Linked DNA regions of Homo sapiens: region 2 is linked to region 1. Evidence: fine-mapped expression QTL. Tissue or cell type: atrial appendage. Region 1 holds a variant in brackets; the other region holds the start of a gene. All regions are shown on one strand. Distances are between the middles of the regions.

Region 1 (2,937 bases):
TATATGATGCCATATTAGTTCTGTATTGCTTAAGTTCATTTCAATAAGCACATATGCTATTTTCCAGGGGGAAGAGGGTCAAATTAAGAGAATAAATCACATCATAGGAAATAAAGATCTTTAGTTATATCGAGGAACTTGAAATTGGACTTATTCTCTTATGTAACTACAAAATTCATAAACGTTCATGATAATTTCAAATCTGTCAAGCTACTGAAAAGAGAAAGGAAAAGTGTGTGTATGTGTGCGTGTGTGTGTGTGTGTGTGTGAGACAGAGAGAGAGAGAATATGAATAAATGAGACAGATTTAATTGGTAGAGTCTTCGTAATTTTATTTTTTCTCCATCCAGACCTATTGTTAAAATTATTAACTATTAGCACCCTTTCTTCTACAACATATCTTTTGTTAATGTCTCCCTCAAATCATTTCCTCTGATTCTAGTAACTCACACTTAGTAATTTGTGACCTGCCCGTCTGCATCCATTTCTTAGAGCAATGAATCTTTGCTACTCCATCAAGGTTCAAAACTCAGGAGGAAACCTTGTCATTAAATTCTATAAGGAAATCATCTAAGGTTCTAATTTTAAAATATGTTTTGAAATTCTACTAAGATATTCTGTAGATGTGTGAGGTAAGCATAGATTAGGAATAATGTAAATTGCTACAACTATATATAAAGTCAAAGAATCTTAATGTATTTGTGGACTTTGTAGTTAGTCTGCTTACATCCTTGCTCCAATTTATGTAACTACAACAGCGATTATCTTATTTATTTTGTATACAGTCAGTAAAATTCAACTTTATTTTGTATGGTATTACCTCATATAAAAAAATCTCTAGGACACAGACTGAAGCATCTTTTGGATAATGAAAGTCTTATGTTTTCTAGTACAGGTGTTTAATAGCAAGCAGCTTTCATATGGAAATTCCAGGGTAAATAGGTTTGCTGTTGCCAAAGGAAAAGGAAGGCAGGCATTATTGGGAGGAAAATAAAAAGAAATAAGTGTCATCGTATGTTAATGTAATGAAAACTGACTATCGGAAAGAACAAAGATATCAGAGCTGAAATATAGTCCATCTCCAGCTTATACGATCCTTTAAGGGTCAAGGAGCTCTGACACACATTTCAAATAGTTTTCAAAATGTAATACTGAGAGCATACCCTCAGCAGTATCTCAGCAGTATCCAGAAAGCCCTTAAAAGTCAATCTTAATAAAGCATTCTTTTCATTGTTGTTGTATCGTTTGGCTTCATGAACTTTAG[G/A]GAGAACTGAACAAGTAAAGCTGTGCCCTGGCAGTTGAAAAATTGGCATGGAAAATAATTGGCATCCTGCTCAAGGGAGAGGGATTTGAGCCAAACAAAGGTACCTCCTATATTAATATGTAAGCTTAACAATCAGGCAAATCTAATGCCGCCAGACTTCTGGGTCAGAATATTAACATTTCCTTCTGACATGCTCGAGCTGGAGTTTAATGCCAAGAAATGCATTTATAATTAGAAAACATCTTAATTGTGATTTATGTGTGTCTGACAGGCTGACACTTGATCTTTACTTACTCTCTTACTGACTTAACGTTATTTTTATGTCCTGAGAGACATAACTCAAATTGAAGATTTTGCTTGTCGACTTTATATTCTGATAGTTATTTAGCTTTTCTACACACACATCATACATTTGCTCAATTCTTATATTTTAACATTTTATAACATAGAGTGAATTTCATTAAGATGATTTCATTAAGATAATTTGACGATTGTTAACATGACAAAACTAGTCAAAAGAGTTTGCTTCAATAAACGTAGTAAATAAAGTTAAAAAGTAGTAAAAGTGCTAGACAAGCAATTGAAATTTCTGAACAGTTCCCTGATACATCTTACGGGGATCAGTGTTTTGAGTCCCCAGTTGGAAAATACATGACAAATGGCAATGAACAATTGGACAAATGGCAATTGGAAAATACATGACAAATGGCAATGAACACAAAAATACGATTTAACATGTCTTGTGACTGTTTATCAAAATAGGAAAATAGTTTTAGCATAGAATCTCATTTCAAAATATAACACAGAGCATGGCTGAAATAACTTTTCTTATATATTTCAGTGTTATCCTACTGAGTTAAGAAAGGCATGATTTAAAAGAGGTAAAAGTATGTCCACATCATTCAACCACAGGATGAAGGCTAATTATATCTACACAGCCAGTTCCATTTGGCAAATACAAATAGATAAGAGGTGCTAGTGATGATTCAGATGCCTTGGAAAGCTACAGTAATACTTTCACAAATCTTATTTTTTATGAAATATAAATGTGTGTGTTAGTGAGGGGAGAGACAGAGACAGAGAAAAAGAACAAACTATTTGTTAAAATCAAGATACAGTACATTTTGAGGAGATGCTAGAACTCAAGAACAACTTACCTTGTTAACTGGAGCCCTGCTATTTATATAATATCACTCTCCCTACTTTTTAAACAGAAATTTAGGCATATGCCTTCATAGTGCTGACACATATATGCTTTCCCTCACTCTTGCTTTGATGGATTCACATATATGCTTTCCCTCACTCCTGCTTTGATGGGATGGATTCACATATATGCTTTCCCTCACTCCTGCTTTGGTGGATTTATGATGGATTTTCTTCACTCGTGATTTGGTGCATCCTGAGTAAAGGCAAGTTTTCTTTTGCTTTTTTTTTGAATATTAATAATTTTTCAGAAATATGTATCCACATGCAGCAGTCACTGAAAACACTGTTAACACTAAGAAGTTCAGAAATAAAATTCAATCTCACTGCCTCAATGTTAACTATTAAAATAATAAAGTTTATGAACTTTGGGAGAACTTTTCAATAAATTTCCACTATGAATTTGATGACGGCCATTATGCATGCACTTGATGTTTTTTCAGAAATTTTGTTTCAATAATGACTTTTAA
Region 2 (2,937 bases), 42 kb before region 1:
CAGCAAGCATTTTGCGCTCAAAATATGCCTCTTTTACAGATTATTTGTTTCTCTAATGTTAAGCAACATAATAACTTAAGTATTTGGTTACTAGATTTGACAATTGGCTCTTTTGTGAAAGCAAATGAGTATGACTTGGAGTTAACCTTACAGGAGGCCATCATATTATACTCTAGTTAACAATGGCTTTCTGCATACGTGCTACAAGTCCATCAAATCGATGGCCATCTGTGTGTACTAGAGACACAGAGTATCAACACACTGAACCTGAAACTTGTTATTCAGGGCCCACCCACTCTATAGCTACCAAAGTATATTTTTTAAAGTAAAGGCCACATCACAAAGTGGGAAAGCTGTTAATACTATCTAGCATTAATTCTGTATTAGAAGGATACAGTTGACCTAGATTCAAATTCTAAATGGTTAATGCTTCCAGATACGCACAAAGGAAGTAAATATTCTAATAAACTAAAACATCCACAGTAAAAATATCAGTATACTCACAAAAGACAAAAAATACTGTTCATTGTGAGGCAGAATTAGCTACTTTAACTCAACTGCCAACTATAACCTCCAGCAACAACCACTCATAAAACAAATCATCAATATTTGCACACAGAAAAACAAAAAGTCAATTCTGATGCCATTTTTCTGTATTTTTTCAGGTTGGAGGAAGTAGAAGAAGTGGTTGAGGACTAAAAATTCTTTTAAATAACAAACCAGAGTTATAATTCAAAAGCTTGTGTCTTTGTAAAGATTACATTGTCATCTAAACAAAATTACAATACCAGACAGTAATCAGGAAGAATGAAAGGACAGGCAGTTGTGTTCACTCTTCCAGCAAATAATCACTTGCAATCATTACTACTCTATTCTTTCAACAAGCATGACAGAAAGTAGCATCATGACAGAGATCATTGTACTGAAAGAACATCTTAACTTTCTCTGTGGTTCACTGCTGCCTTAAATTTGAAAAAAATAAGAGAAGGGCGGGGGAAGAACTTACTTGCGGTTTAAAGTTTCATCTTTAGTCCATGTAAGATTATGCAGCAAGTTTTCTTGCCAAGGCTGCCTCTTGCACATCCCTTTAAAAAGAACCAGTGCTCATAATCTAGTTCCAAGACGATTCATTCACATGTTCCACCTCTTGTTTCTGTGAGGCATTGATATCCACTCTCATATCATCAAGAAAATGTTACTAGGAAAATTTTTAGAAAAGCAAAACAGTTCAACATGTTAACTCAGAAAGCATACCATCATTCTCCACGTTCTGAGATGTATGCCACCTGCCTTAGTTACCACAAGCAACTAACACTAAGCTGCTAGCAGGAATCTGTCTGCCCTCTATCTGTCGCTATTAGCTCAGCACGTTGATTTCACTGGCACTGAAGCAACAGCAATTAGCTATCTTGCTTCTCGCAGCACATACAGGAGACAGCTGAGTGCGCTAAACCACGCACTGACTGGTGAGCGCTTTGCACCAATTAGTAGCAGGTGCTACAGCCCAAAAGACAAATTGATGTCCACTGATCATCGGTACTGGCTGCTTTATTGTACTGTGTTCGTCAGCCTGTCTGATGATTCTCTGTTCTGTTTTGTGTGTTTGTTTTTACTGTTTTACTTTATCTAAGAAGTTTAGCAGCTTACATTCAATAACAATGTCGTTGACAAGATAAAATAATCTCTTAAGCTTCTTTTATCATTCTCTCTGTCTCTCCCTCTCTCTCTCATTAAATCTACCCTCTTATATGAAGCCCTCCACATCTTTGGGGCATAAAAACAAAACAAAACAAAACAAAAAAACAATTTCACAACTTCACACATTCTGTAGGAGCCAAAAGTACTCTTTAGATTTTTACAAACACGTGTGACTGGTAGTATATAAGGTTATCACGAAGAAATATACTATACAAAACATTATAGCATATTTCTTAAACATTGTAATATATGAAATCTCCAAAACAAAGTTTTACAGATGGACAGGTAAACTAGTAAAATACAATTATGTCATATAAATCAGAGAAACATTTCTTAAGGAATCTATCTTGCATAGTACATATTTCAATTCCATATTAAATTTCACCCATGTGTTCACCTGAGCATATGAGAAGGAAGGATCTAGAAACAAGCAATTTAGGAACATATTTTAGTAGTGATTGTGACAGAGCAGATAGGCTGAGGCTGGTTGAAAATGACAGGTGAAGACTATCACAGACAAAAGCCCCAGAACACATGTTTTCTTAATGAACCATGTGGATTATTTACTAGGATGATACATTAACTCTAAGAAGAAAAAGAAAACCATGCCTCCAGAAATGTTGCCGTATTTATGCACAAGCATTTGCAGAAAATAACATCTCATTTAAAACAAAATGGACTTATCTTGCAGGCTCAGTTTTCCAGAGGGAGGGAAAAATCTTTAAGAATATGGAAATAATCTGAGGCAAGCCAAATGTGTTATACATTTTAAACATTAACACGTGTAGAAGTAAATCAGATAATTATAGATGAACCCCTTGAGCCTCAAGTGGAACCCATTTGTTTTTATTTTATGTACCACTGAAACAAACTAAATTACTTGCTTCCTTAAAACCACAGATCAGTGGGAGTCAATGAGGACTTGTAATAAGTGAATACATTATACACTTGTTAGAACTGATATTTTTAGATTTTAAAATTGATGTGTTAATAAAGATAACTTTATTGATACATGTTTAAATAATGAGCATATTTTGTGTGAGAAGTTTTTCTGTTCATTTCACTAAATGTCTCACCTGTGGAGCAATCCATATATTGATATTTGTTGAATAGAGCAGCTGGTATTTTAAGATTGTTTCAGTAACCATAAGAATTATTAAGTGTAGTTATTTTTCTAATGACAATTCAGCCTCATTCGTGGTAATGTTCAATGATAACTCTGATGACACATCAGAAATA

Which allele goes with the higher level. Alleles are on the strand shown, and positions count from the first base shown. SD is a standard deviation of normalised expression in the study named.
For the expression in atrial appendage of the gene that starts at base 1,313 in region 2, allele A in region 1 goes with a higher level than allele G (moderate effect, 0.45 SD a copy in GTEx).

Evidence for each region. PIP is the estimated chance that this variant, and not a neighbour inherited with it, causes the effect. A credible set is the group of variants that fine-mapping cannot tell apart.
Region 2: it holds the start of PCDH15, and the variant in region 1 is the best candidate, but not a certain one, in a credible set for the expression of PCDH15 in atrial appendage (GTEx, PIP 0.60).

The regions. Positions count from the first base shown.
Region 1 is chr10:54,841,936-54,844,872 of GRCh38, forward strand. It overlaps a transcript of PCDH15 not described here. Among named protein-coding and RNA genes, the nearest start is that of PCDH15, 42 kb to the left of the region's middle. The variant G/A (reference allele first, on the strand shown) is at 1,265.
Region 2 is chr10:54,799,919-54,802,855 of GRCh38, forward strand. It overlaps PCDH15 (protocadherin related 15), which reads right to left and starts at 1,313. Exons shown (of 38, transcript NM_001384140.1): 1 at 1,007-1,313.